Linked DNA regions of Homo sapiens. The protein of the gene in region 1 purifies or fractionates together with the protein of each later gene. This does not show direct contact. Each region holds a gene or a part of one and is shown in the gene's direction. Other genes may lie near its edges. The genes, in order: KLHL2, SIPA1L1, TRIM47, FBXW8, TRIM9, FBXL17 and XIAP.

The links.
Region 2: the proteins of KLHL2 (region 1) and SIPA1L1 purify together in Homo sapiens (affinity purification with mass spectrometry; 2 studies listed by BioGRID and IntAct, with this or other methods). This does not show direct contact.
Region 3: the proteins of KLHL2 (region 1) and TRIM47 purify together in Homo sapiens (affinity purification with mass spectrometry; 2 studies listed by BioGRID and IntAct, with this or other methods). This does not show direct contact.
Region 4: the proteins of KLHL2 (region 1) and FBXW8 purify together in Homo sapiens (affinity purification with mass spectrometry; 2 studies listed by BioGRID and IntAct, with this or other methods). This does not show direct contact.
Region 5: the proteins of KLHL2 (region 1) and TRIM9 purify together in Homo sapiens (affinity purification with mass spectrometry; 2 studies listed by BioGRID and IntAct, with this or other methods). This does not show direct contact.
Region 6: the proteins of KLHL2 (region 1) and FBXL17 purify together in Homo sapiens (affinity purification with mass spectrometry; 3 studies listed by BioGRID and IntAct, with this or other methods). This does not show direct contact.
Region 7: the proteins of KLHL2 (region 1) and XIAP purify together in Homo sapiens (affinity purification with mass spectrometry; 2 studies listed by BioGRID and IntAct, with this or other methods). This does not show direct contact.

Annotation. Positions count from the first base shown.
Region 1 is NC_000004.12:165,307,938-165,312,255, forward strand, and holds part of KLHL2 (kelch-like protein 2), read left to right. Parts: intron 1-2,615; coding exon 2,616-2,813; intron 2,814-3,526; coding exon 3,527-3,628; intron 3,629-4,318. UniProt on the Homo sapiens protein: Substrate-specific adapter of a BCR (BTB-CUL3-RBX1) E3 ubiquitin ligase complex that mediates the ubiquitination of target proteins, such as NPTXR, WNK1, WNK3 and WNK4, leading most often to their proteasomal degradation.
Region 2 is NC_000014.9:71,581,977-71,586,294, forward strand, and holds part of SIPA1L1 (signal-induced proliferation-associated 1-like protein 1), read left to right. Parts: intron 1-4,318.
Region 3 is NC_000017.11:75,875,464-75,880,209, reverse strand, and holds the start of TRIM47 (E3 ubiquitin-protein ligase TRIM47), read left to right. Parts: upstream 1-1,628; 5' UTR 1,629-1,661; coding exon 1,662-2,336; exon of another isoform or gene 2,337-2,359; intron 2,360-2,385; exon of another isoform or gene 2,386-2,489; intron 2,490-3,396; coding exon 3,397-3,492; intron 3,493-3,717; coding exon 3,718-3,948; intron 3,949-4,110; coding exon 4,111-4,309; intron 4,310-4,735; coding exon 4,736-4,746. UniProt on the Homo sapiens protein: E3 ubiquitin-protein ligase that mediates the ubiquitination and proteasomal degradation of CYLD.
Region 4 is NC_000012.12:116,983,727-116,988,044, forward strand, and holds part of FBXW8 (F-box/WD repeat-containing protein 8), read left to right. Parts: intron 1-1,456; exon of another isoform or gene 1,457-1,479; coding exon 1,480-1,676; intron 1,677-1,927; exon of another isoform or gene 1,928-3,611; intron 3,612-4,318. UniProt on the Homo sapiens protein: Substrate-recognition component of the Cul7-RING(FBXW8) ubiquitin ligase complex, which mediates the ubiquitination and subsequent proteasomal degradation of target proteins.
Region 5 is NC_000014.9:50,997,028-51,001,345, reverse strand, and holds part of TRIM9 (E3 ubiquitin-protein ligase TRIM9), read left to right. Parts: intron 1-505; coding exon 506-663; intron 664-3,157; coding exon 3,158-3,296; coding exon of another isoform or gene 3,297-3,346; exon of another isoform or gene 3,347-4,318. UniProt on the Homo sapiens protein: E3 ubiquitin-protein ligase which ubiquitinates itself in cooperation with an E2 enzyme UBE2D2/UBC4 and serves as a targeting signal for proteasomal degradation.
Region 6 is NC_000005.10:108,361,424-108,365,741, reverse strand, and holds part of FBXL17 (F-box/LRR-repeat protein 17), read left to right. Parts: intron 1-746; coding exon 747-1,004; intron 1,005-4,318. UniProt on the Homo sapiens protein: Substrate-recognition component of the SCF(FBXL17) E3 ubiquitin ligase complex, a key component of a quality control pathway required to ensure functional dimerization of BTB domain-containing proteins (dimerization quality control, DQC).
Region 7 is NC_000023.11:123,862,548-123,866,865, forward strand, and holds part of XIAP (E3 ubiquitin-protein ligase XIAP), read left to right. Parts: intron 1-4,318.

The DNA of each region.
Region 1 (4,318 bases):
ATCTGTCTCCATTCATTTGATGAAATGCTGCCTTTATCATGTATTAAATTTCCACATTTACTTGGTTTTATTCTAAATTTTCTGTTCTCTTCCATTGATTTGTCTTGCCTATTCATGCATCAAGACAAAGCCAATTTTAGTTACTGAGCTTTATAATATGTTTTACTATGTTATGAAACTAGTGATAGGACTCCTGTCTTCTTTTATATCCTTCAGTAGATTTTTAACATTTTCTTCCAATGGTCCTCTGTGTTTCTTGGCAAGTTTATTTTTAGGTGTTTTATCTTTATCGTTACTATCTGAAATGGAGTCTTGTATGCCATTTACTAACTGGTTTCTTAATTCATATCTGATTCCTAATACAGTTCCCTTTTCATTGAGGCCATAAGTCATTTGACTCATTTTATTGCAAAATGTATTCTTTACTTATTGGGTAACTATGAATAAATTTTATCTTCATCATGCCCTCTTTCCTCTCCCTCCTTCAGATTAGAGCCAATGTCCTTAACTGTGTAAACTTGGCCAAATTTTAATAAACTGTGTAATTAAACTTCTGGGCACTTCAGTTTCCTGATAACTTTGGGAGGTTATCATACTTCTTTTAGTTCAGTCCCTTCTCCAGACCCAGAGCCTTTGGTAGGGGGCACTTCATAGATTGATTCATTTATTTTCTTCCTCTCTGTGACCTAAAATTCTCTAAACCTTGGTAAGCATACTATGTTACTTCTAAGAGATGGCATATTTGTAGTGTTATTTTGTGGGTAGAGAAAGGAAAATGAAAATTGCAATGGGCAAGATTCCCACAATGAACATTCCCTGGAGTTAGTTATGATTTTGGGATACAGGATTGTTTCATGCTGAAACATGCTGCCTGGTATGTTGCTGCTCACGAGTCTCCAGGCCCTCTTAGGATGTCTGTTAAATTCTGTGCTAGCAGGGGGCCAAAACAGGCAACTTCATCTGAACTGGAAAGGTCTTGTTGCCATATGGAGGACTGCATTTCCGTGTATTTTTACAGGGGTGGGGGAATAAAGCACCAGAGGTTAAGACAGTAAGGGGCAGAGGTACATCTCTTGCCTGATAACATCTGCAAAACATTGAGCTCGTCAAACATATCTGGTGATTCCAGTTCTCCCTACAGGGATTCAGAGAACTGTGAGCCACATTGCCTGCCCTCAGGCTGGCACAGGGACATAAACATTATAGAACTAAGAACAATAAAAATTTGAACAATTTAAAGTAATTATATTATAGACGGTACATTTATTAAACCTGAAGTACACAACATAGATGTTATTTGCTATAGGGTTCGGGAGCTGGACATAATCCCTTTTAGGCTAAAGTGGACAGGGAAGGCATCATAGAGAATGTGGAACTTTAACTGAGGATTCAGAGTTAAAGAGAACAGAGTAGATGGTGATAGGAGCCTGTCCGATTAGGACAGCAGCATGAAAAAAGTTGAGAAAAGTGAAAAGATGGTTGAAACCTGAGTCTAGCAGTCTAGTTTCTCCATTCACTGATTCCGTAATATCTCTTTAGCCCAAGGATCAGCAGACTTTCTCTTGAAGGACCAGAGAATAAGTATTTTAGGCTTTGTGGTTATATGGTCTCTGTCACAGCTTCTTATCTACTGCTATAGTGCAAAACCAGCCATATGTAAATGAATGAGTGTGGCAGTGTTCCAATAAAACTATATTTATGGATGGTGAAATTTGAATTTCATATAGCTTTTTACATGTCATGAAATATTATTCCTCTTTTGGTTGTTTTTCAGCCATTTAAAAATATAAAAACCATGCTTAGCTTATGGGTTCTACAGAAATAGTTCGCTGGACCAAATTTAGCCTGTAGCTGTAAATTTGCCGACCCCTGATTTAGCCCACTAACATGATAAACTAGGAATACGTTATGCAAATAAATTATAAGCGTATGGAGTTTCATTCTAAGAATATCCACTAGAAGATCCAAAATTGAAAGCTATGGGAGGTGAGTACAGGTTCAAGTAGTTGGAAAATAATGGCTCATTATTTAAGCTTGTAAATTGATATTTAAAAAAACCAAGAGTCAACATGGTACTTTAGCCCATGCCATTGCATTTTTTAATAACCTTAGAAAGAAGGCCAGGTGCAGTGGCTCACGCTTGTAATCCCAGCAGTTTGGGAGGCCAAGGCGGGCAGATCACGAGGTCAGGAGATCAAGACCACAGTGAAACCCCATCTCTACTAAAAATACAAAAAATTAGTTGGGTGTGGTGGCGGGCGCCTGTAGTCCCAGCTACTCAGGAGGCTGAGGCAGGAGAATGGTGTGAACACGGGAGGCTGAGCTTGCAGTGAGCTGAGATGGCGCCACTGCACTCCAGCCTGGGCGACAGAGTGAGACTCCGTCTCAAAATAAAGAAAGGAAGAAATAATAATAATAATAACCTTAGAAAGAAAGACAATTTAGTGATTGGATGTTCTTGCAAATGAATAGCATTTTCAAGGATTTATTTAATCAGGCTCCTCCTAAGAGTAGCATGTTCTGACAACAGCTATAGATTTATCAGAAAGCAATCTTTGGATATTGGTGGTAGTTGAGTTGCATGTTGATCATTAAATGCTGTACTCCTTTTGCAGGCATGGTCTACATGGCTGGACTTGTTTTTGCTGTTGGTGGCTTTAATGGCTCATTAAGAGTTCGCACTGTAGATTCCTACGACCCTGTGAAGGACCAGTGGACCAGCGTTGCTAACATGAGAGACCGGAGAAGCACTTTGGGAGCTGCTGTGTTAAATGGATTATTATACGCTGTGGGAGGCTTTGATGGGAGTACAGGTAATTTCCTTTTCATTTATTCTACATTGCTGCTAAAATTAACGTAGTAGTCATGTTTATGGAATAAATTGTGGCAACATTAGGGCACATGTGAGGTTTTTTGTGTTTTTTTTTTTTTTTTTGAGATGGAGTCTTGCTCCGTCGCCCAGGCTGGAGTACAGTGGCGCAATCTCGGCTCACTGCAAGCTCCGCCTGCCGGGTTCATGCCATTCTCCTGCCTCAGCCTCCCGAGCAGCTGGGACTATAGGTGCCCGCCACCACGCCCGGCTAATTTTTTTTGTATTTTTTAGTAGAGACGGGGTTTCACCATGTTAGCCAGGATGGTCTCAATCTCCTGACTTTGTGATCCGCCCACCTCGGCCTCCCAAAGTGCTGGGATTACAACATGTGAGGTTTTAACTGGTATTTAAAGATAAGTTTAAAATTTTATCAAGAATTTCCTTAAATGATATGAGTGGTGAGTATATAAATTTTCTTTCTTATGCATCAGTATCAGTCATCAAATTTTAAAAGCTTATAAATATCAGTAGCTTAGGTAGGAGCCTTCTGGAAAACAAGCTGTACCTGTTTTTCATGTAATTGCTGTGTTTATGTTCCACCATTTTCTTCTCTTAATTTTAGCCCAGTATAACATACCTGAAGTATTTTTCCATATATATGAACTATTGACATTTTTTAGAGAAGGAAATGAAGACTATTGTGCTTTATTATAGGTTTGTCATCTGTGGAAGCATACAACATAAAGTCTAATGAGTGGTTTCATGTAGCTCCCATGAATACAAGGAGGAGCAGTGTTGGTGTGGGTGTTGTTGGAGGTAGGTGTTGACAGTTCTTTCAGGTACATGTGGCATTTTGATCCTTGAGAGTGGTTCTTCCAGTAATCTCAACTTTAGTTTTCTGAATGGGCAAGCTAATTATCATTTTAAAAAGAAAAGTCGTAATTACTGTAAAATTTCAGTTATCCTCTTTTTAAAATTAGCTTCTCTATATAAATCAACCTATATAAAGCCTTTTCTCTCCCTCTCTATCCCCCTCCCTTTATCCCTCCTCCTTTCTCTCTGTGTGTGTGTGTGTGTGTGTGTGTGTGTGTGTGTGTTTGACTTATATAACTGTGTGTGTTTGACTTATATAACACGTGTGTGTTTGACTTATATAACAGCAGTCCCCAACCTTTTTGGCACTAGGGACTGGTTTTGTGGAAGACAATTTTTCCATGGACAGGGGTGGGTTGGGGGGATGGTTTTGGGATGAAACTGTTCCCACCTCAGATCATCAGGCATTAGAGTGTCATAAGGAGTGCACAACCTAGGTCCCTCAAATGTGCATTTCAAGATAGGGTTCACACTTCTGTGAGAATCTAATGCCGCTGCTGATCTGACAGGAAGTAGAGCTCAGCTGTAATACTTGCTCACCTGCCGCTCACCTCCTGTTGTGCAGCCCGGTTCCTAACAGGTTCCAGACAGGTACCGGTCCATGGCCTGCGGTTTGGGGACTGCTGCTGTATA
Region 2 (4,318 bases), on another chromosome or scaffold:
TAAGAGATAAACATTGACATGTACTTCTGTTCTCCTTCATTTTGCCAGCTGTTGCATCAATTTACTACTTACCAATTATTCCACCATGGGTTGGGTGCACTGGCTTACTCCTGTAATCTCAGCACTTTGGTAGGATCCCTTGAACCCAGGAGTTAAAGATCAGCCTGGGCAACATAGCAATACCCTGTTTCTACAAAAAATTTTAAAAATTAACCAAGCATGGTGAGGCATGCTTGTAGTCCTAGCTACTCAAGAGGCCAAGGTGGGAGGATCACTTGAGCCTGGGAGTTCAAGGCTGCAGTGAGCCATGATCATACAACCAAACACCAGCCTGGGTGACAGAGCAAGACCCTGTCTCAAATAGTAATAATAATAATATTATTATTCCACCACGTAACTTGTTCCCGCATTCTTTATCATTCTTCTGCCCTCAAGCTTTCTGCCAAACTTTTGTGTTCTTTCCTTCACCTTCAGCTATACAAACTATATTCAAGCTTAACAAAACCTTAGAAGCGTAACTTTCTTCACTGAACTTTTTTAGCTACGAGGGTGAGTGGGAGGGAAATGTGATTTTCCTTTTTGATCCTTCCTGTGTCCAAACAGGCACATTTTAAGTTGCTTTCTTATCTCTAAATTCAAATACAGCTTTATCATGTTACATGTTTTGTATCTATAACTTTTCTATTCACTTTGTTAATTTTACCAAAAGTTTTTTTGACTCGACTTTGTTTCCATCAGTGTTGTCTCTTTCAGAGAGTGAACATTAGGAGAGCAGGAACTAGATTTATCAACTGTTTTTCTCAACTCTTCCTGCTTTTTGTTGAAGGGAGAATACAGAAATGAAAGGAGGTAGAAATTCCATTCTAAAAAGTTTTACGCTGATTCATAAATCTTAAATTATCCATGACATTGCACTAAGATGTGTTTCAGGCTAACTTGAAAGAGTGAGCCATCCCTTCTGTCTGAGATGCAACTTTTATGTAATGTGAGTGGAATTCAGGAAAGCCAAGAAGGGATGTAAAGAAAATAGTTTGCCTTATTTGATTATCTTAGCTCATCTAATATTCAAGTACTGTGAAGTTATATTTCTGTTTTTAAATAGTGTTTTATTACATTCTGAAGTAAGAATATTTACAGGCATTCTAAGTCTGTGTTTACAAGTTCAAAAACTATTTCTATTTTTTTGTTGTTTGTTTAAGAGCCTGGGTATTACCATGTTACCTAGGCTGGTCTCAAATTCTTGGGCTCAAGCCATCTGCCTGCCTTGGCCTTCTAAAGTGCTGGGATTACAGGCACAAGGCACTGTGCTGGGCCTGGAAATTTTCATAAATACTTCTGAAGTGTATATCTCTGAATTATTGGGGCATTTGAATAGTTATTCATCAGCACAGTTCCTTCTACTGCCCTGAAACATTGAGAGCTGGCGTTGTATTTTAGGCTGTACCAGTTAAAGAATCTGAGAAGATCTCATTTTGGAATGTGGAAGTATTTTATGAGGAACGCTACATCTTTCTGGTGACCCTACCATATTGCACTGTAATTCTTTCACAACAGGAACTGTAGTGTTCCCCCAACCCCACCCCCTTCCCACATCTTCTTCTTGTAACCTTTAAACTGCTCTTTATGCCCTTGGCACGATGTTGTTTCTTTCATTCTATTCCTTGAATTAGGAATAGAATGTGCTCCCTTCCTTACCACTTAATCATTTCTTGAAAAAAAATTTTTTTCATTATTCTGCTTGTTGGTTATTTCATTGTAAAATAGGTAAATAAAGAAGATGTCAAATGAGCACCTACCTCTATTTTATCTGAAGTTTAGTGGAGAAGATCATGACCAGAGATTTGGAGGTAACAGCATAGAGATGATATTTAAAGCTGCAGGCACCTACAGTATCAACAGACAGAGTACTGGTTGCCATGCAGATTTCCAGCCAGTAACTTAATTATTCTGCCTTTGTTCAGCTGCACAGACAAATGTGAGCCAGCCCAATCAACACTCTGCTTTCCACAGTGATATTATTACTCCAGTGGACCCATGCTTCTGTCTCATCCTAATACACTCAGTGCTCACATGCATCCTGATAGAAATACCTTTTATACCCCTTTCCAGAAATATGAAAAATGTCAAGAGAGATAAACCATAGACACCACCTTTTCAATGGACCCCAACTAAAGACTGAGTAGTGGGCAAAAAGAGGCAAGAGAAAATGAAGAAGCACATGGTTATCACAGAGGTCCAGAAAAGAGAGGTTCAGGATGGAGGATGGGTTCAGGAGTACAGATGCTTCACAGAGCCAGAATGACAAGGGATTTTTGGCAATCAAGAGATCCCATAAGAGGTTCTGCTTTCAGCATTCTCAGGGACTTGATATTCTAAATGGCTGACCTACTGTGGTACAATTAGTCCCAGCAGGAGATTGTAAGCTCTGTTATTAAAGAGCTTACAATCAAAATGGAAAGTGTATAGGAAGGAGGCATGACCCATGCATCCCCCGTCATCTTCTTACTTGTCTGTGTCTCCCTGCTACACCTGGAGCTTTCCTTGAAGGAGGGACTGGTGGATGTATGGTCCATGCTCTGAAGACACTACAGAAACACAGGGGGTGATTTGGATGAGAGGAGGAAGCATTTCTTCTGGAAGAATGGTGGGTTAGGTTGTGAGAGATCTTGAGTGATGAAAAGACTTTCAACTAGTTGAATTGAACTCATTGAACTAAACTGTGGGCCCTCTAGATGGAATTAGTATTCTAGCTACCTGGATCTACCATAGACTTAGATAGTATCTAGAGCTGTAAAATTAAACATGTAATAAGGAAAATTTTTATATAGCCTGCTCTTTCAACAGATGGAGGTGACATGCTGTGAATTCGTATTGCTCTTCTGTTTAATTCTATTGCTTTTTACCATATTGGTACTTAGGCAGGTTTGCTGATATTTAAGAGAGTTGCTGATCATTGTCAACATAGGTTTGCTGTTTCAGTCAACCCTAAGGAATAGATGTGAAGGTATTATTGATCTGTCATCATATGATACACATCGATGGACAGCATTATTTTTGACTGGTAGTTTAATAAGTGCAAAGCATGTATATTTCCATATATGCTAGTCAGTGCCCAAAGTTTATATTGTACCCCAAAGGGGTTTGATGCTATAAATAAGAATGAGAAAAGGGAGGGAGGGAGGGAGGGAGATGGAAAATGAGAGGGAGAAAAAAAAAACATAGAAAAGGAAGGTCCTTATGACTGAAAAAAAATCTGTTATTTAACATAATTGCCCATCTCGAACCTCATCAGTTTTTACAAGCCATTAAAACGTGGCTTCTCTCTCTCCCATGTGCTTATTTATATTTTGAAATGAAAAGAAAACATTGAGTCGTTGTTATATAATGTAATGGGAGTCTTGAAATTTCTTTTGAATTGGTAAGAAATTTTTATATTTAAAAATAAGATTTTATAAACTCATTAAAAATATTGGAAGTATATGAGATGGTTTGGAAGAGAAATACTGATGGTGGAGACTGAGCATTTCCAAGTCAGTTTTATTTCTTGTATTTTACTGCCAGCTTTTAGTTTCCTCCTCTAATGGAAATAACTTCACATATCCTGGGAAAGACAGCTGTGCAGTAAAGTATTTTCTAAGGCACATGAAATGTGGCAAGAGTTTTTATCATGGTGGGATTGGTGTGTTGTCCTTTTAGAGAATGAATGTTTGGGGAATGAAAGATGATTTATTTGGATTTCTGTGAGGTTGTGAGAAATGTTGAAAGCATCTAATTTTTATAAAATCTACTTTAGAAGTATTATTTATGCTATGTAGAGTATTCATTGAAATAATCAGCTTTTGGGGAGATGTTGAACAGGTGTTTGCATTTTGGTTCAGTTGTTCAATTTTCCTTCCATTTTATGAGAATCACTTCTTGAACCTTTGCTATGGCCATATATGCTGTCCTTTGATATCCTCGGAAGCAACAGTTAGCATGTTTTGTCACTTGAAGGGTTATCATTGAAAGAGGAACATGTAAAGTTCTGGAATGTAAAGGGAATAATAGCAGTCTGACAGTAGAAGTATCTAGAAAGCTCAAAAGCCATGTTTAATTAGGTAGCAGTGCAAAACTATTATCCCTTTTACAAAAGATGGTGAAGAGGAGTGCTAGTGAAAACAAATGGCATTTATCTGAATGGCTCCACAGACTCAGCCAGCACGAGCCCAGCCAGAGCTCGCCTCACCCTGCATTCTGCAGGCAGCATGCATTTTTTTTTTTTTTTTTTGAAACACCCCTACATGTTCCAGCCTTTAAATAGCAGCGAGTCTTCTAAAGT
Region 3 (4,746 bases), on another chromosome or scaffold:
GCCCAGGACAGAGTCTCCCTCAGATCCTGCAGAAGGAAGCCACGCTGCAGCACCTTACTGAAACACAGCATTTCTTTCTATTCCAAATGGAGAGAATACACCAGAGTGGTATGAGCAGTTACCTGTGACTTTGTCACTAACCAAAATTACAGATATCTCTGGGTGCGGTGGCTCATGTCTGTAATCCCAGCACTTTGGGAGGCCGAGGCGGGTGGATCACCTGAAGTCAGCAGTTCGAGACCAGCTTGGCCAACATGGTGAAACCCCGTCTCTACTAAAAATACAAAAATTAGCCAAATGTGGTGGCGGGCGCCTGTAATCCCAGCTACTCAAGAGTCCGAGGAGGGAGAATCGCTTGAACCCAGGAGACAGAGGTTGCAGTGAGCTGAGATTGCGCCACTGCACTCCAGCCTGGGCGACAAGAGCGAAACTCCATCTAAAAAAATAAAAATAAAAAAACATTATTTGGAATTTTCAATGCGAAATATGTCTGTTCTCCCCAGCTTGTTAATTTATTATTTATTTATATCGGCATGGACTCATAGATGTTTATTTTACACTTTGGGTTATAATCAGTGCTACTTTACTTATTTTGTTGTCATTCTGGTGTAGTGTTTTAACTTAACATTATTGAGATATAACTCATACAATAAAACGCACCACTTTAAGTGCATAATTAGATGAGCTTTAAATACTTCCAGTTGGGGAACCCCCAACCCCACCACAGGTGTCCCCAGTGTCCAGGGGCCAGAACTACATTCCTCAGACAAGGGACTTAGGGAATGACGTCAACTTCCCATTTCAGGTCTAGAAAAGTCCAAGTTCCCTACTTGGGGTAAAGAGTCGCTAAAGGAGCTGGGCGCTGTGGCTCACGCCTGTAATCCCAGCACTTTGGGAGGCCGAGGCAGGTGGATCACCTGAGGTCACGAGTTCAAGACCAGCCTGGACAAGGTGAAACTCCGTCTCTACAAAAAAATACAAAAATTTGCCTGGTGTGGTGGCAAGCGCCTATAATTCCAGCTACTTGGGAGGCTAAGGCAGGAGAATCACTTGAATCCGGGAGGCGGAGGTTGCAGTGAGCCGAGATAGCGCCCCTGCACTCCAGCCTGGGCGACAAGAGAGGAACTCTGTCTCAAAAAAAAAAAAAAAAAGAGTCGCTAAGGGGCAAAAACATATGTACATCAGCAGTTATTTTTCTCTGCAGTCAGCAGCTCAGGAACTTTGCTAAGGGTGCCAGGGAGGGGTCGAGCGCAAAGGTGCAGGCATGACACAGCTAGACGCGCCCAGCCCCTGCGGAGCGCTGGCCTGGCCCAGAAGGACCAGAGGGATGGAGGCTGAGTCCTTCCCATTCCTTCCACTGTACCTCTCGCGTTCTCCGCCCGCGCTCACTCAGTTTCACACCCTTTCAGCAGCGCCCTTCCTTAGGACCACGCGGACTCCCCTGGGGGTCGCGCGGGCTCGGAGGCCTCCCTGCGTTGTCTGGGCGGGGACTGGGAGTCCGCGGGCCCGCAGGCGGGCGGTGCTGCGGGGCGGGCCGAGCTGGGGGCGGGCGGGGGCCGGAGCCCTGGCCTAGGTCCCAGGGGGAGGTGCCGCGGCGCGAACGGCCCGGGTCCCTCCCAGGCCGGAGCACAATCGGCGGCGCCCTGGGCGGCCGCGGAGTCATGGACGGCAGTGGACCCTTCAGCTGCCCCATCTGCCTAGAGCCACTCCGGGAGCCGGTGACGCTGCCCTGCGGCCACAACTTCTGTCTCGCCTGCCTGGGCGCGCTCTGGCCGCATCGTGGCGCGAGTGGAGCCGGCGGACCCGGAGGCGCGGCCCGCTGCCCGCTGTGCCAGGAGCCCTTCCCCGACGGCCTTCAGCTCCGCAAGAACCACACGCTGTCCGAGCTGCTGCAGCTCCGCCAGGGCTCGGGCCCCGGGTCCGGCCCCGGCCCGGCCCCTGCCCTGGCCCCGGAGCCCTCGGCACCCAGCGCGCTGCCCAGTGTCCCGGAGCCGTCGGCCCCCTGCGCTCCCGAGCCGTGGCCCGCGGGCGAAGAGCCAGTGCGCTGCGACGCGTGCCCCGAGGGCGCGGCCCTGCCCGCCGCGCTGTCCTGCCTCTCCTGCCTCGCCTCCTTTTGCCCCGCGCACCTGGGCCCGCACGAGCGCAGCCCCGCCCTCCGCGGACACCGCCTGGTGCCGCCGCTGCGCCGGCTAGAGGAGAGCCTGTGCCCGCGCCACCTACGGCCGCTCGAGCGCTACTGCCGCGCGGAGCGCGTGTGTCTGTGCGAGGCCTGCGCCGCACAGGAGCACCGCGGCCACGAGCTGGTGCCGCTGGAGCAGGAGCGCGCGCTTCAGGAGGTGGGCTCCGGGGGCACACTCGGGTGAGCCGGGGCTGGTGACCGACCGCGCGCGAGCGGGCCGAGGACCTTGGACCCCCCAGTCTTCCCGGGTTGGGTCTTAATCTCCTCCTCTAACCTGAGGATCTTTGCGGTCCCTTCCAGCCTTGACAAGGTCATCTGCTGGCGGTGATGGAGATGGGAAGGGAGGAAGGAGGGACGTGAGAACAGGACAAGGACGCGAAGAGCGGGCAGGGGACCTGAAGCCGGGCCGGGGTCTATGGGGGTGTAGGCGGGAGGGAGCCGGGTTAGGCCCGCGGGGTTCCGGTAGCGTGGCTGCTGCTCCCGCCCGGAGGGTCACGCCGGTCTCAGCTCAGATTTGCCCTGGGCTGAGGCAGCAGCTTTCGATGGGTGTGGCAGGCGGCAGGAGGGCGGCAGAGGGCGACCGGGCACACAGATTCTCTGTCCAGCTGTTCCGGGGGCCAGTGGTGGGAGCATGTGAGCCGCGGCCTCTACCTCCCGCCCCCAGTTTCCTTTGGCCTCCAGCCCGGTCTTGGCGCCTCTGGCCAAGGGATTTTCCGTTTCTCCTGCCTGGAGCAGTGACTCATAAGACCTAGGGGATTTGCCCGGAATCCCCTTTTTTCCAGGCCTGGACTGTGGATGCAGGCTCTTTGGGAACAGTGATCCTCAGGACAGCTTAATGCCTCCTTGTGCAGTCACCCCTCCGCCGCCCACCTCCCAACCTAACTGGCTTACTCTCTGCCTCTTCCCCGCCGGAGGAAGTTCTCAAATTCATCTGAGCAACACTGAGACCAGCGGACGGCCCTGTACTAGGCCTCCTGTCAGAGACCCGAGGCAGACACCCAGTCAGCCTGCACGCCCCCCAGGCGTTCAGGAAAGGCACCAGCCTGGGCTGCAGGCACCTCTGGCATATTATGGGACATCGTGGCCACTCCAGTCCCACCTGATGCACAGATACCACTCCCCAGTCACCCCCTTCTCTCCCCTGGCAAGGCCTGGGACCCGAGTGTAGGGCTGTGGCCTCTGCCAGACCTCACACTCATGGAGGGTGTTGTCCACAGGCTGAGCAGTCCAAAGTCCTGAGCGCCGTGGAGGACCGCATGGACGAGCTGGGTGCTGGCATTGCACAGTCCAGGCGCACAGTGGCCCTCATCAAGGTCAAACACCCCTCCCTCAGCATGGAACAATCCACTCCAAACAAACCATGCCCATACCTACTGAGCACAAGTGTCCCCTGACCTGGCCCAGATCCAGGACAGGCTCAGTCTGGCCCCTCTGTCCCCTCAAGAGGGCCGGTGGGAAGCCGGGGTCAGGGAAGGAGGGGGGTACAGTCCGGGACGGTTCTTTGCCCTCATTGCCCCCTCTACTGTCGTCCTGTGCAGAGTGCAGCCGTAGCAGAGCGGGAGAGGGTGAGCCGGCTGTTTGCAGATGCTGCGGCCGCCCTGCAGGGCTTCCAGACCCAGGTGCTGGGCTTCATCGAGGAGGGGGAAGCTGCCATGCTAGGCCGCTCCCAGGGTGACCTGCGGCGACAGGAGGAACAGCGCAGCCGCCTGAGCCGAGCCCGCCAGAATCTCAGCCAGGTCCCTGAAGCTGACTCAGTCAGCTTCCTGCAGGTGAAGGCCGCTCTGGGGGCCACGGAAGGAACAGAAGCTGGGACAGGTGGGGTGGAGGGAGGAGGAGGCAGTGGGTGCATGACTTCCTGGCAGAGCTGCCTCCACCCCCAGCAAGGAGGAGCCATGGCCAGCAGCACTTTAATGGGCATTTGTCTGGCACAGGAGCTGCTGGCACTAAGGCTGGCCCTGGAGGATGGGTGTGGCCCTGGGCCTGGACCCCCGAGGGAGCTCAGCTTCACCAAATCATCCCAAGCTGTCCGTGCAGTGAGAGACATGCTGGCCGTGGCCTGCGTCAACCAGTGGGAGCAGCTGAGGGGGCCGGGTGGCAACGAGGATGGGCCACAGAAGCTGGACTCGGAAGGTGGGCACCGCCCCACGCCCCCCCGATGACTCACCCTCTGCCAGCCTCTCGCACAGGCCCCCAGGCCTGGCGCCCATCCAGAAGTGGAGGAGGAAAATTGTGCCTGGCACAGGGAGGAGCCCAAATCCTGCCAGTGACTAGAGCTGCCACCCTGTGGGGATCAATCAGCCCCTTGGACCTGGGGTAGAGGGGGCTTCTCCTAGCCCACCCTCTAGCTCCAGAGGGCTGTGGCCCGGGAAGCACATGGGGCAAGAGGCAGAACACAGGCAACGGGCATGTGTGTGAGCACAGCGTGCCACATCTGGGTGGTGCTTGCTCCCTGGTGGCTCTGGACTCTGGGAGGAAGTGAAGGGGGTAGGGATTGTAGTCACAGGTTCAGAGGGGGGCAGTCTGGGGGCGTTCTCACCACTGTCTCCTCTTCTACAGCTGATGCTGAG
Region 4 (4,318 bases), on another chromosome or scaffold:
TCAATAGAAGGGGAATTAGCATTGATAGATTAAATATGTTTTATAACACAGCAGGAACTATAGACTGCATAAAAATAAAAGACAGAAAGGAATGGTCCATCTTCAGTGCTTCGTGTGGCCGGTCTCCTTTCATCTGCCTCACAGTCCTATGTAGTAGGTAATGTTGTCTTCAACTTTACAGAAAGGCTAACAGGCTCAGAGCTGTTAAGCAGCTCCCCTAAGTCCGTCAGCTAACAAGTGCTGGAGCTGGATTTGAACTCAAATAGTCACAAACTGTTATCTCCACACATTTATTTCTTGGTGAATTTTGAAAAATTGAATCAATTGGAATTGGAGCAAGGCATTAACCAGCCTAATGCAGAGAGTAATCATTTTCTTGGGTAAATCTTCGAAGGGAAGGAAATAGCTTGGGAATGATAAAAAGAAATTATTTTTGAGGAAAGAAGAATCAATGAAATGCTAAGTACAGAAAAGGTTATCTGACTGGAAAAGCATAAGCTCCTGTAGACCACTGGTCCTAAACTCCAGTGGACATCCCCAGAGTTACTGGTGCCTGACAGTCTGCATTTCTAATAAGTCGCCACGTGGTACTGATGCTACCGGTCTGGAAACCACCCTGGAGAAAGGGTGTGTGGCCAGTGTGTGAAAGAGGAATTAATCTGGGTAGCAGCATTCCAGGTGCTGGGAGAAGAGTGGAAAATCGGCATTTTTGGCAAGTGTGGGATATTGAAGCACAGGTTTTAGAGCTGTGCAAAATAAAGCACTGCTGCTAACAGAGGCTTTAGGAGGATGGCGCTGAGGAAGGATGTGAAATTCAGGCTGAGCATCCCTAATCCAAAATTCCAAAATGCTTTGAAACTGTTTAAGCACTGACATGATGCTACATGTAGGAAATTTCACATCTAACTTCATGTGATGGGTTTGTAGCCAAAACACAGCCAAAACTTTGCTTCATGCACAGAATTATTTAAAATATTGTATAGACCAGGTACGTTGGCTCACACGTGTAATTCCAACACTTTGGGAGGCAGAGGCAGGAAGATTGCTTGACCCCAGTAGTTCAAAAAAGCAGCCTGGGCAACATAGTGAGACTGTGTCTCAGCTAAATTAAAAATTAGCTGGGTATGGTGGCACACGCCTGTAGTCCTGTCTATTTGGGAGGCTGAAGCAGGAAGATCACTTAGGCCCATCAGTTCAAAAATGCAGTGAGCTATGATAGCACCACTGCACTCCAGCCTGGGCGAAGAGTGAGGCACTGTTTCTAAAAAATAAAAAAGTAAAATAAAATATTGTATAAAATTACCTTCAGGCCATGTGCATCAGGTATATATGAAACGTAAGTGATTTCGTGTTTAGACTTGGGTCTCATTTCCAAGGTATCTCCGTTAAAAAATTTTCCTTTGTGTTGCATGTTTTTAAAATAATTGAACATATTAAGTAAATTTAAAATTGTTACCTGCATTGTTTCTTGCTGCATAGGGTTTCTTAATATTTGGGATTTAAGGACCGGAAAGTACCCTGTTCATCGTTTTGAGCACGATGCAAGAATACAGGCACTAGCCCTCAGCCAGGACGATGCAACCGTGGCCACAGCTTCTGCTTTTGATGTCGTGATGTTATCCCCCAATGAGGAGGGGTACTGGCAGATAGCTGCGGAATTTGAAGTTCCGAAACTGGTGAGCTTTTTAGTCTGGTCATCTTATTTTCTATTCTTAGAATCTCTGGGTCTAATGTAAGCACGTACTAATGGTGTTGGTAACTCCCATTCACTCAGAGCTTCCTGCGGGCCTTACCTCCATAAGTCTAACTACAGCCTTACAAAATAGGTAGTAGCATTTTCCCCATTTACCAAGAAGCCACTTCAGGCTGCTTAGAGCAGTGAACTGACTTGCCCCAGTTCTCAGAGGTAAGAAGTTACGATTCAAACCTCAGGGCTGACTTCAGGGCCAGAGCTGCTCATCACTGTGGTTCCTTGGCCTTCTTCAGACTAACACGGTGGAATCTCACCCTTGGGAATCAAAGATCAGTTTGACCTAATATATAAGTGAGAATGAGTTCAGTGGTGTTATCCCAGTCCATCTGGGAAGGAAGGTTTCCATTCCTACACTTTCTTCATCCCAAGACTGTCTCACCTGAAATTTAAAGTAACTCTTGCGTGAAGATAGATTTAAGTTGGTGTTAATTGGGTAGCCATGTTCCAGGATGTCATGTGTGCAGCTCAGCCAGCCTTAAGAATTCTTTATGTCGAGCTTATTTCTGAGTTCATTGGTACAGGAACCTCTAGATTTGTAGAGTGGGAGATGATTTGGTGTTAAGAAGGAAGTGCTCAAATCTGTCTATGCTGAGTTAGGATTTAATTTAAACAAACTTGATTTTGGCACTGGTAGGAGAGTGAGCAGAAAAGCCAACACTGAGTGATGAATTGAGGGCCTGACCTGGAACCAATCCTGTTCCTCCCTCTTTCTGTCTGTTGGGAATCTTCTTAGACTAGAATAACTTAGAAAGCCATGGCATCACTGCTTCACCTCCAGGAGCGTCTGCACTTTGAGTATAGTGCTCCCCTAAAATGGCCTGATGCTGTCAGCTCATCTGGGTTTTATTAGAAAAATGTGAAAGTACATTTCTGTTCTCAAAACTTCCATAGTACTTACTATTTAGTCTGTGATTAAAGAATACTGTGTCACAAGGTCAGGAGATCGAGACCATCCTGGCTAACACGGTGAAACCACGTCTCTACTAAAAATACAAAAAATTAGCCGGGCGTGGTGGTGGGCGCCTGTAGTCCCAGCTACTCAGGAGGCTGAGGCAGGAGAATGGCGTGAACCCAGGAGGCGGAGCTTGCAGTGAGCCGAGATCGCCACTGCAGTCCAGCCTGGGCAACAGAGCGAGACTCCGTCTCAAAAAAAAAAAAAGACAAAAAAACAACAAAAAAACGAATACTGTAGACCAGCAATCACTGTATGGACCCAGATACTTACTTAAGATGCCAGTTTCTCTGTAAAGTGCAAATCCTGCCTTGGCAATAAGGTGGCATCCTGGCACAGACTGGAAGCTTTTTGAACTAGTTTACAGCCCCCAGCAAATGGCACCACCACTGTCAATCTGAGCCTCTTGGTCTGTCAGAAAGCCAACACGGAGATAAAGTTAAAGGGCTAGACGGAGGATATCAGTTGTAGGAAAATGAGACATGATTTGGGGGAGTGAGAGGAACCGAGCAGCCATTGTTCAAGGCGGGTTTTATGCACGTTTTAGGAATTATTTTTCACTTTGAGTGAAAGGTTCCCACAAAATGCTCTGAGTATCCTTGGAAAAGGCACCCCTGGCCCGAAGAGCCAAGCCAGTTTTGTCTTGTCCATATACGCCCCTGAATGGCAGTGGCAGTGTTCCCAGGTCTGCGATATTAGCCTAGTGCGGCTGTCCTTTGTGATGGACCCGCAGCTTGCGGAGCTGGGCCCGAGTATTAGCAGAGTCCCCCGGATGTTGACGCTCCCTCCAGCTCTTCTGGACCGTGTTCTGGAGGCCGGCTTTGAACTCTTTGGCATATGGTCAGGGCAGCGCTGTCCTTTCACACTGTGGATTTTCATAATTAGTGTGGCTCACCTTCTATGTGTCCTCTCGTGATTTACTCGCAGAGGCGAAAGCCTGTTGCGAACGGCACCGCGGAGAAATGGGCCGCCTGTGGATGGACAGAATCAAATTATTCTTGAAAAGTGCGTCTCAGACTCGTGCACATTAGAGAAAGTGCCGGCGGTGACGCAGTCAGGACTGGGGAGCGGGGTGGGTAGAAACATGCGTGTTTGTAGAGCCTTCCTTACCCTCTGGTGGCCAAATGGACCCTGATGACGTTGAAACCAGGAGACAGCAGATCACTTGGATATTTTTAACCTTTTGGCCACACATTTTGACACAAATGTTAAAATTTTTTTTGCGAATTTGGAGCTGAATGTTATTTATTCAGTTCATTGTAAACAAACAAACAAACAAAAAACACAACAAAACCAAAAAAACCCCAACCTTTTATTTTTTGAATTGCTATTACATCCCCATGGTTCAGAATTTAAAAGACACAATAAAGCTGATGGTGGGAAATCTCCCCATCTCATAATCCACTTCCCTCCTTGAAGGCAGCCATTGTTAGAAGATGTATGGATGTGCGAGTCAAGCGCATTGTGTACTTTCTCCACCCCCACCTTGTACACATGTCAGCAGGTGGGGTTACCTAACTCATCTTGCATCCTTGCTTTACCCGCTAAGCTTATCTGGGAGAACCATGCCATTTGTTTCGTTTTATAAAGAACGTTTTCATGCTTCCCTCTAG
Region 5 (4,318 bases), on another chromosome or scaffold:
AGGCAGGAGAATGGTGTGAACCCGGGAGGCGGAGCTTGCAGTGAGCCGAGATTGTGCCGCTGCACTCCAACCTGGGCGACAGAGCGACACTCCATCTCAAAAAAAAAAAAAAAAAAATTATTAGCACAGCTTCAGGCACGTTATAAGTTAAATATGCTTTAGTGGGTTGGACTGGAACCCCAGCCTCCATGTAAAACATTTCCTTTAGGGATAATGTCTTCAATGTTCAAGGGGATGAGAACACAGTTCTGTGAATCTGCCTGTCTCCCCTCCAACAGCCACAATGAAGGTGGGAAGGGCCACTGTGCGCTTAGAAAATGGCCTCACAGCAAATCAGGAGCCAGTCTGACTCCTGGGGACTCTGTGAAGGATCCTGTTCAGTTCCCCTGTGCACCCCATTCTGGCTACTTCTAACCACGTGTTTATCAGGGGGATGCTTGTCATTCTAAGATACTGGAATATCTGCAGCTTAACAGAAGCCAGAGTTACACTAATTTCTGTTTAGCTTCCTCTCCAGTCCCAGCAACCCCTATCCTACAGCTGGAGGAATGTTGTACCCACAACAACAGCGCTACGTTGTCCTGGAAACAGCCACCTCTGTCCACGGTGCCCGCCGATGGATACATTCTGGAGCTGGATGATGGCAACGGTGGTCAATTCCGGGTCAGTAGACAGCCCACTACGTACTTGTTAACCCAAAGCAGTGACTCTGTCAGAGGACCTGCCAGGGAGTCTCAGGGCTGGCTTCCCCATCTCTCCTGGGGACAGGCCATCCTGGCAGGGCCTGCCTGCCCTTCACCTGAAGCCTGCTTTCTCCCTCTACCGTGAAGGTGGATGGAGCAGTCTCTGAAACTGCCCTACCCTTCTTATGAGACAGGACATGCAGTACTGGAGTCAGACTGCCTGCATTCAAGTTGGTCTCCTCCACCCTAGCTATGTGGACAATGCCTAATTATCACCCCTTTGAGTCTTCAGGTCCTCATTTATTAACTAGAGGGATGATAACAATAGCGTGAATCTCATGCTTTGTTGCTAAGAGTCCATTAGATAATTCATACAAAATTCTTAGCATGCTGCCTAGAACATAGCAAGCGTTCATTATTAGTTATTATTATTACCATCATTGCTTATTGCTAATAATATAATTAACCGTTGTCCAAGATTTATTTCTGCAATCCACAGCTTCTAATGTCTTTGATTGGCATTCCTCTTAATTGACATGGTCTCCTGTTATAGCTTCCCTATTCTAAGCAACCTTTCTAGCAAAGGTTTCCCCAGTTCTATAGTTTTGTTCTGGGCCTTTCACCAGATAGAACTGGTACCAGAAGATTGCTACCTTCCCAAGGTGAGGGAGCCCTATCCCCATTGAGAAGCTCATGCTGCCCTCTGAAGGCAGGACAGAATGGCCTCCTGGTAAGACACAGCTGTGGTACCACCAGATTGATGATTCATGTGCCACCACCTGCCGGCATGTGTCTGCTTCTCTCATACAGAGCTTCATTCTCATCCATCCTCTCCCTGCCACCCTACTTTCCATCCTCTCCACCCTAGTCTTGCCTGGAAGTTCTGATGCTTGGAGCTTCCTAAGGGAGCAGCCGTTCTGGGGACTGAGGCCAGTTCCTGCACTGATGAAGAGGAGACCCCTGTCTAAAAAAACCTCAGGCCCGTGAGGATGAGGCTTTCTTCTGGTCACCAATAGCCAAACCTGAGCCACTAGCTTTCAAGAGCAAAGCCTCTCAAGGCCCCCTTTTCCTGAATGTGTTTTTGATCCCCCACTAGGTTTAAGTACTTGAGAGCAGGGGCCTTGTCTTCTACAATTCTCCTCAAGGACAAAGGTTCTCTCTTTTGATAGAGAAGCCTTATTTACATATATGTTGATTTATTGGCATGATAAAATCTAATTTCTTTCTTTCCAAGATAAGGGCCTCAGGTTCCATTTCATGTCTTTTGCAGTGTGTGTGAGAGTGTGTGTGTGTGTGTTGTGTGTGTGTAAAATCCTATTTGTCAGTTTCTCATTCCTGACTTTGCCTTTTCAGTGCCTGTGTCATTTTCAGGGCCTTTCTTTTCCCTTTATTATCTTTTTTTTCTCCTGGGAAAGTAACTCTCCCGGTTTTCCCAATTCTTTAAATAATTATCTTATTTTGTCTTGACTTTTTCCTCTACTCAAAAGTGCGGTCCTCCCCCAGCAGCATTGGTTTCACCTGGGAACTTGTTAAAAATGCAAAATCGAGACCCTACCCCAGACACCTACTGGATCAGCAACTGCATTTTTACAAGATCCTCAGGTGATTCATATGCACGTAAAGTTTGAGAAGCACTGAATGAGAGGACATAATATTCCAATTTTTGTTATTCCAGCAGGAGTAATGAATTGATGGGTGATCCAAGACCGTGGTCTTCTTAGTATCCTACCAGAGAGTTGTCATATTAAGGCTGTGCTTTGAATGCAAATTATTTTTATTCATTACATCAGCATAATTTTGCAATGTGTACAGCTGAAGAGGGAGGCAAATGCCTAACCTATGCTAAAGACGCATTATGCTAGGATTTATTTTAAGCCTTTGAAATGTCATTCTTCCTCCTTTCCCTGTTTCCTCCCCCTTCCCTCTGTACTGTGATGAAAACCTATCCCCGGTGGCTTGGAGTGTAATCTCTGTGACAGTTCTGAAGTTATCAGCGGAGTTCTAAACATAGGATAGAGACCACCTTCCTGTTTTCATGGTTTCAAACATGTTTTTTACAAACCATACTGATGGATAAGGAGCTCAGTAGGGGCTATATACTGTACCAATCCCAAGTTAATAAGTGTAATCTGAACTATAAGCACTCAGTTTTATTTTTTTTAAGCCCTAGCTGCTAATAACTACCATTCATTAGGCTGCCTGGCCCATGCTAAATACAAGGCATGACGCTAATCTGCATATACAACATTAAGTAATCCTCACACCAACCTCATAAGGTGGATATTATTATCCCATTTTACAGATTAGGAAACTGAGGCTAAAAAGGTAAATTAAATGGCCCAATATCTCACAGGATTCAAATCCAGATTAGAATGACACCAGGGCTCTTGCTCCTAACCACTGAGCGACACTGCCTCCCTCGCCCCTCAGAAGGGGGCAGGCTAAGTGCTGTCCTGTTCTTTGCTGACTCTCAGGAGGTGTATGTGGGGAAGGAGACAATGTGCACTGTGGATGGTCTTCACTTCAACAGCACATACAACGCTCGGGTCAAGGCCTTCAACAAAACAGGAGTCAGCCCGTACAGCAAGACCCTGGTCCTCCAAACGTCTGAGGGTAAGGCCCTTCAGCAGTATCCCTCAGAGCGAGAACTGCGTGGCATCTAAAGTGGCTGGCAAGCCCGGAGGTAACCCCACCACTGCCCACATTCCTGAAGTGTTTCCATGACTTGCTCTGCATTCTGCACAGAGCCGCTGTTCCTCTCCTGCCTTTAGAGAGCCTATGGTATGTGGATGTGATCAAACCAAAGATTCCACATCGGCAGTTCCAATGGCTTGGGCCGGCGGCTTCCTTTGATAACAATCTAAATAAGCTGCAGTTGAAGAAGCTGAAAAATGAAGGCCTGAATGTGCCCCTGGTGTGTAAGACAAATGTATCTAGGCTCTAGAGCAGGCTCCCATTCTCCACCGATACACATCATGTGCCAGTTTTGCCCAGATGATTCTAAATTACTCTGTAGTACTTGCTTGTTCTGAGGGTGGGACCTAGGTTCTTTCCAGTCGTGGATTTGTATGACTGAATGTGTTTCAAATGGGTGGTGGGGTGCTAGAGCTGTTTAGAGAGGGCCTGTTGGCTGCTCCTGGCTTACCCACTTAGACTGCCTCCGTTTCATACCCAAAGCGGAGGCCGTCAGCACCAGGATTGAGACTTCCTGTGGGCACCAAACAGGAAGAGACCAGCAACTTCGCATTACCCGCCATTTTCATCTTTGCCAGTCCCTTCAGTCTTGGCTAGGCTACCGAGAGCCACCATACAAGGTTCATCTCTAGAGAATTTTTGCTTCTTAGCTATACTTTAAATATTTTGGTCATCAAAGACAAGTAATGTGTCTCAGATGAGAGGCTTGAATTTGATGGCCAGATATAACCTCTGAGGCTTTTAACATTTTCATTTTAAGAGTAAGCAAGACACATGAAATTAAACCTACAAGGAGGTATTTGTGGCTGGTGCCAAAGCATTCTGACACTTTGGGGTGTCATTTTAATCAAAGAAATCACCCCCCCACCTCACCGGGATTCTCCATAACTTCCCTCTGCAGAACTAATTATGTTGATTTTGTTCAAGTTCAAGATGTTAGC
Region 6 (4,318 bases), on another chromosome or scaffold:
TTAAGGGCTCAGTCCCACAAGACTACCCACACTTCAGATATCAGTTGCAAGTCCCAGAAGCCACCTGAACTTCTCACTGACCAATTATAAACTTGTGAGTTCCCTTAATTTCTTTCTCAGTTTTGATAATTAGCCACAACTATTCACTGAACTCTGGAAAATACTTACTATATTTATGGGTTTATTATAAAAGATATAGCTCAGGGCCAGCCCACTGGAAGAGATGCAGAAGGCAAGGTATGGGATATACCACCTTCTCAGCACTTTGATGTTGTTTACCATCTGAATCTCTGTCATTTGAGTTTTTATAACCCAATCTCCAGCTTCCTTCCTCTCCTGTAAGTAGTGTTGAAAGTTATCACCCTCTAATCAAGGGTTTAGTTTTTCTGGTAACCAGCCCCCATTCTGAAGCCATCTAGGCGCCCCACTCTAAGTCACTTCATTAGTATGAACTCAGATATGGTCTAAAGGGCTTGTTATGAATAACTAAAGAAATTCTATTGCTTAGGAAATTCCAAGAGTTTTGGGAAATATGTGGCAAGAATTCAGGACAAAGACCAATTACAATATTATTATTATACCAAATTCTTGTTATGCTTCAATGTTAAGACGGTTTCTCTTTTGATTATATCGTTCATGCTATAATCTAATTAGTATATTGTTTATTGTGGAACATTTAATTAAAAAATGGAAAATACGTTTTTATTTTTAGCAAAAGTTTAAATTTATTGCTTTTTCTCTTACAGGTCACTGATGAATTGTTGGAAAAAATTGCATCAAGAAGTCAGAATATAATTGAAATCAACATTTCTGATTGTCGCAGTATGTCTGATAATGGCGTATGTGTTTTAGCATTTAAATGTCCTGGACTTCTTAGGTATACAGCCTACAGGTGTAAACAGCTTTCTGACACCTCTATTATTGCGGTTGCCTCTCACTGTCCTTTACTTCAGAAAGTGCATGTAGGCAACCAGGACAAACTCACTGATGAAGGACTCAAGCAGGTAAATTTTAGCATTTATAAAGTGATTTTACTTGAATTAATTAAAAATGTTTTCTAGCAACAACATTTTAAATGGTTACGTTAAAAATAGTTCCCAGAGACTCAAGTGAATCATCTTTTTTACCTATTAATGAATATTTGTTTAGATTAGTTAACTAGAGTGCCATGGTTATAATCAGTAAATTAACTGCTTTGTTTTATAGTGAGAGCCTGAACTTCTGTGACCAGCCATTTTATAAATTTATGCTTTTGTTACTTAAATTTTTTACCACATTTTGCTTTGGGCAACTGCGTAGTTTTGGTCAGCATGAGGTTTTAAAAATTAACATTTTAATTCCCCTTTTATTATACTAGATGACATACATGCTTAAATATCTGAATGTTTAAGGGATAAATGGACGTCCAAATTGAAGATTATAAAAGTTAGAACAAAGGCCTAATTACCTCTATTTGGTACAATAACTGGGTTAAAAATAGTATTATGCATACCTTCTGTTTATTATACTTCCTTTGGAAATGGCATTTAAGGTTTCTTGGCTCGGAGTGGATTATTTATTCAACAGATGAATATCCTTAAATTTAAACCTTATGTATGAATTAACTGAAAGCTTGGTATGAAAAGAAATTTGGGAAGACTCTATCCTAAATAGTGAGTACTGGGTGTGTCAGTACAACTTATATATTAAGAATGTTACCAACTTATAAGGGAGCCTATTTTGTTTGCAAAGGCATATTGTGCAAAAAGTCTTATTTGTTTTAATATTTTTCTTGATTCATTTCTGCTATGTACAGGATTATTTACTAGCAAAGCATTTCATGAAGTTCTTAAACATATTAAATTAATCTTTTATGAAGAAATATATATTTTGTGTATATAGCATGATTTTATTTACTTTGATGGAAATTTCTCAGCAATTTATTTTTCACAATGAAACATTTTAAAAAGGTGTATGTATTAAGAACTGGATTAAATCTATTTCATATTTAATTCTGATATAACACAAATAGGTAGTAGTTTAGCAGACTTCTTAGGGTATACCTAGTAATTTTTGTGAAAAAGAATAAGATCGTAGTCATGGTTGAAGTAGAGAAGGAGCAACATTTAATATGCTAATCAAGTATTATGAATTTATCTTATATTTACAACTTTGAGAGTAATTATGTAAATCTTCTCTAGAATGTGAGGTATTTTGGAGCCTGTTACTTAGATGTTTCCTTCGGATATTTATGGTTTCTGAATTATGAATTAGTTACACGTGAGGTAATATTCTGATAAAAGTAGCAAAACAAATTTTTTTCCCCTTAGGTAGTTTTCTTCTTAAGTAATTACATAGGATCTCATTGCAGTGTAGAGAATATTTTTCTGTACTTAAGACCGCTATAGCTGGGTATGTCTGATTTCATAATAGACTCTTTCCTCTGATGGAATAGTGTTATGGGTATAGTAGAAAGAGAATGGCTTTCATATATACATAAAATAGAAATTAAGTTTTATGAAACAATACACATCCTTATGTGCAATGCACATGGATATTATCTATTCTGTTCTATACTATTATGTTAAATGTTGGCCTTGACCCACTCACTAAATTAATTTTATGACCTAGTGATATTTCATAAATCCGAATATGGATTTATATTATGGTTTTAGTAAACTGACAGTGCTATGTTAAAATGTATAATAGAGTTACGAAAGCCTAAGAGGGAACTAGCCATAATTGATGATTTGCCTGGGACTGTTATTTTTTCTTGAACTCATTAATTTAGCAATTGACTGAATTGTTGATTCTACAGATTAAGTTGTTGCAGGGTTCTGTTTTTTCCCTCTTCTGTCAGTAAAAATTGAGAAATGTTTTAGAATGATATATGTAAATTTTATTGATAATTTCTTTAGAATATATTTTCTTTATAACTGCTATAATTTTGATTGACTTTAGCGGATACCAAATATGTGTGCCTTTTGAATTCTGTCAGTTTGTTTACAAAAACAGTTGCTTATAGCATTTCAATTTGGAGCTCTAATAGATGTAGACTCTAATGTTTTAACTATTGGATTCTGCTTAACAATATTTCTTAAGCATGGTGAAGCACCTAAAAAAATCAGGCTGGTTTTGGTTGAATACTATCCTCTTTGTGAAATACCACCCTGAAATATTTATATTTTTATTTTCATAATAGTCACTCAAAATAATTTTACCAGTGGAATGTGTTCCTATTGTATATATCTTTTAAAACTACAATCATGTATCTAGAGGAAAAATCTATTTAAGAATAAAGGGCTGTTTCAATTTTCCTAATATTTTGTTATCATCTAGCACTTGCCAGTAAACAAACGATAATAGTAGTCAAAGTATTAAAATATATCTAAGAAATTGTATGCATTGTTACTATATTATGTGACTCAATTATATGCAGTTTTAGCAGTTTAACACTCCAGCTCATGGAGCTCAGTAGAAATTTCTGTAAATAAGTCACTGTAGGCTTTTTTCAGATAAAATGGTACAAAAATAATAAATGTTACATTAGTAAATTTTGATCTGGCTATGCTATCAATTTTTAGGTCTTTAAAAATAACTACTTAGAGTACTATCAGCAAAATGTTGGAGCAGGCAGCTCCAAAAGCCTGCCTCTCCAAAAAAACATTGAAAAACAAGCCTAAACTATCAGATCCAACTTTGTCAGAACTCTGGAAACGTCAAAGGTTTATAGCAACCAAAGGAATGCTAGACAAGAAAAATGCAACTGAAAGGTGGAAAGAATGCTTTGTGGGTTTTTTACTTGCCTGTGCCTCACCCATTCCCCAGCTTGGCAACAGTCTTGAAGATAGCAGTCCGAGTTCCCAGTGTGGGACCCAGATCCCTGGTTCCAGAGGGAACAGAGCAGACCTTATTTGCAAATTATTCATTTGTCTGATCAACCTACCTGAGAGCTATTTGAAGGGCTGATGCAGGTGCTTATATATCTGTTTTACCTAATTTAGAACCCAGTCAGGGAGGAAAATTAGTGGGCATTGATTGAACACAGTATAAGGCAAATGAAAGAAACTTGCTTTTGAGCAAGCTTCTTTGGGCAATAGATTATGGTGAGACATACAATTGACCTAGGAGAAAGAGCCTGGGAGAGAGTTTGTTTTTATTTTTGTTTTTGTTTTGAAATTAGGACAATCAGCCTCAGTGTATAGAAGGGAATTTTGAAAGCCGCATGCATGCCCAGGGCAGGACACTTGTTCAGGAACGACCTAAGAAGACTGTAAACTTTATCACTGTGTGCTTGCTAGGTCCAGTACAAGCAGGAAGTAAAGGCCAAGGCAGAGTT
Region 7 (4,318 bases), on another chromosome or scaffold:
TTTTTTTTAATAAACCACAAGAAAAATTTGACACCTGACGCTGTGGCTCATGTCTGTAATCCCAGCACTTTGGGACGCCAAGGCGGGCAGATCACCTGAGGTCAGGAGTTGGAGTCCAGACTGGCCAACATGGTGAAACCCCACCTCTACTAAAAAAACTAGCCGGGTGTGGTGGCGTGCACCTGTAGTACCAGCTACATGGGAGGCTGAAGCAGGAGAACTGCTTGAACCCAGGAGGCAGAGGCTGCAGTGAGCCGAGATTGCACCACTGTACTCCAGCCTGGGTGACAACAGTGCACCTTTGTCCCGAAAAAAAAAAAAATTGACACAAGGAAAATATCTGCAGCCTGGGCAACATGGCGCAGCCCTCTCTCTAATAAAAATACAAAAATTAGCCGGGCGTGCTGGCTTGTGCCTGTAGTCCTAGCTACTTTGGGGAGCTGAGGCAGGAGGATCACCTGAGCCTTGGGAGGTGGAGGCTGCAGTGAGCCATGATTGGGCCACTGTACTCCAGCCTGGGCGAAAGAGTGAGACCCTGTCTCAAACAAAACAAAGAAACAAAAATCTGAATTGTAGACTCTTTGTAGATAAGAACATATTTTTTAAAAAAGTTAAGACTAGGGCCAAGTGCGGTGGCTTTCACCTGTAATCCCAGCACTTTGGGAGGCTGAGGTGGGCGGATCACCTGAGGTCAGGAGTTCAAGACCAGCCTGGCTAACATGGTGAAACCCCATCTCTACTAAAAATACAAAAATTAGCTGGGTGTGGCGGTACACCCCTGTAGTCCCAGCTACTTGGGAGGCTGAGGCAGGAGAACCACTTGAGCCCATGAGGCGGAGGTTGCCGTGAGCTGAGAACGCAACATTCAACTCCAGCCTGGGCCACAGAGTGAGACTCCACCTCAAAAACAAATAAAAAGTTAAGACTAAAACAGTTTATAGTGATTAGGAGTTCAGCTGTCTAGTTTTGTTTTTGTTTTGAGATGGAGTTTCACTCTTGTTGCCCAGGCTGGAGTGCAATGGTGCGATCTCGGCTCACCTCAACCTCTGCCTCCCAGGTTCAAGCAGTTTCCTGCCTCAGCCTCCCGAGTAGCTGGGATTACAGGCATGCGCCACCACGCCCGGCTAATTTTGTATTTTCAGTGGAGACGGGGTTTCTCCATGTTGGTCAGGCTGGTCTCAAACTCCCGACCTCAGGTGAAAAAGTGCTGGGACCTCAGGTGAAAAAGTGAGTCACTGCACCTGGCCCAGCTGTCTCGTTTTTAGAAATAGATTAAGACTCAAAAAAAATATTGCCCACCGTAATATATCTGATTATTAGCAAAGCTTGGACTAGAGTCTAGGTTCTAGTCTAGTGGCCCTTGTACTATACCTGTAATTTTATTGCTTTCTAGTGCATTGGATGATTCCAACTAGGCTGACAAAGTAATAATATCTAAAGGTTAGCCAGGACCATTTCAATAGTTAAGAATTATTATTTTTTTCTTTGGTTTTTATTTTATTTTGTCTTCCTTTTTTTTTTCATTTTCAGGAAGTGAGCAGTTTCTCAAAATTATTATAATTAATGGACCAGCTAATTTGTATAGTGCTTAAAATATTTTAGTAACATAAATTTTACTAAATAAATTTACTAATTTAGTAAATAAATGTTCTCCTTTTATTTCATTGTAAACATTAATTTCTTTAGTAAATCCTGTATTTATATTGTAAATGTTTAGCGATAAAATAATGATATTTCACTGTTTTTGTTTGGTCTAATATTTAAGTCTGGTAGGTAGTATTAGCAGAGAGCAAAACCTACAGTTTATGAAATAAACATTCATTGAGCACTTAATGTGTTCCAGGCATTCATTGTAGTATGTGGTAGGATTCCAAGGATAAATATGGCAAAACAAATGCCTTTCTTCTGTTTTTTTTTTTTTTTTTTTTTTTTTTGAGACGACGGAGTCTGGCTCTGTTGCCCAGGCTGGAGTGCAGTAGCGCGATCTTGGCTCACTGCAGGCACTGCCTCCCGGCTTCACGCCATTCTCCTGCCTCAGCCTCTCAAGTAGCTGGGACTACAGGCACCCGCCACCACACCCGGCTTAGAGTGTGTGTGTGTGTGTGTGTGTGTGTGTGTGTGTGTGTGTGTGTGTTTTAGTAAAGACAGGGTGTCACCGTGTGTGTGTGTGTTTTAGTAAAGACAGGGTTTCACCATGTTAGCCAGGATGGTCGCATTCTCGTGTGTGTGTGTGTGTGTGTGTGTGTGTGTGTGTGTGTGTGTGTGTGTGTTTTAGTAAAGACAGGGTTTCACCGTGTGTGTGTGTGTGTGTGTTTTAGTAAAGACAGGGTTTCACCATGTTAGCCAGGATGGTCGCATTCTCCTGACCTCGTGATCTGCCTGCGTTGGCCTCCTAAAGTGCTGGGATTACAGGCGCGAGCCATCACACCAGGCCGCCTTTCTTCTTTTTTTTTTTTTTTTGCTTTTTTATGTTCGTCTGTTTTTATTTTGCTTTTGTGTGTTTGTTTGTTTTTCCATTGTTCTTTTGAGGCTGGGAGATTATCATGAGCTGTCAATTCTCAAGCTTTATCTCTGTGAGATAATCTGGTAATAGTTTTATAAAATGTAACCTGTTAGCACTATTAAAGGACATTGTGTGAGTAGATATGAAGAGACAAACAGTAGTGATAAGATAAAAAATACTTTAGAATTTAACAAATACTGTTTCTGTATCTTAGAGGTCATGTGCTACAGTGTTTGGAAAGAGCCCTACGTTGGGTACCACAGTACAGGTTATTGACTTTGTTTCCAATTAGCTGTGGGATTGTGCATGTCAATGACCCCATCTTTCTTTACATGTTCACATTTTTGATATGTTATTTTAGGTGTTGAATTCAAAACATAAAAAGGGTATTTTAAGGCCGGGCGTGGTGGCTCACGCCTGTAATCCCAGCACTTTGGGAGACTGAGGCGGGCGGATCACGAGGTCAGGAGATCTAGACCATCCTGGCACCCCTCTCTGCTAAAAAAAAAAAAAAATACAAAAAATTAGCTGGGCGTGGTGGCAGGCGCCTGTAGTCCCAGCTACTTGGGAGGCTGAGGCAGGAGAATGGTGTGAACCCGGGAGGCGGACCTTGCAGTGAGCCGAGATTGCGCCACTGCACTCCAGCCTGAGCTACAGAGCGAGACTCCGACTCAAAAAAAATAAAAGGGTATTTTGAATATTTTATTTTATTTATTTGTTTTTGAGACATTGTCTTGCTGTGTCACCCAGGCTGGAGTTCAGTGCATGATCCCAGCTCACTGCAACCTCCACCTCCTGGGTTCAAGTAATTCTGGTGACTCAGCCTCCCAAGTAGCTGGGATTACAGGCGTGTGCTACCACACCTGGCTAATTTTTTTTTTTTTGGTATCTCTTTTTTTCCCCTCGGAGACAGAGTCTTGCTCTGTCGCCCAGAGCTGGAGTGCAATGGCTGCGATCTCTGTTCACTGCAGACTCCGCCTCCTGGGTTCAGGCAATTCTCCTGCCTCAGCCTCCCGAGTAGCTGGGATTACAGGCGCACGCCACCACAACTGGCTAATTTTTGTATTTTTAGTAGAGACGGGGTTTCACCATGTTAACCAGGTTGGCCTCGAACTCCTGACCTCGTGATCCACCCACCTCAGCCTCCCAAAGTGCTGGGATTACAGGTGTGAGCCACCACACCCAGCCTTTTTTGTATTTTAAGTAGAGACAGGATTTCACCATGTTGCCCAGGCTGGTCTTGAACTCCTGACCTCATGTGATCTGCCCGCCTTGGCCTCCCAAAGTGCCAGGATTACAGGCATGAGCCACTGTGCCGGCCTTTGAGTATTTTAAGTTATAAAAGAAATATGTGTTTCTATATATATTATATAATATATATTATACATGATATATAATATATATGATATAAATTATATTATATACAATATATTATATATGATTAATATATAATATATGATATATCATATATAATATCAAAATATATAATATGTATATAATAATGTATGATATATATAATATAGTATATAATATATTACATGTATAATATATTATATATAATATATAATACAATATATGTAAAATATATATAATATATAACACAATATAATATGTAAAATATATTACATATATAATATATATATTTTTCAGACAGAGTCTAGCTCTGTCACCCAGGCTGGAGTGCAGTGGTGAGATCTTGGCTCACTGAACCTCCGCCTCCCAGGTTCAAGCGATTCTTCTGCCTCAGCCTCCCAAGTAGCTGGGACTACAGGTGTGCTACCACACCTGGCTTATTTTATTTTATGTATTTATTTA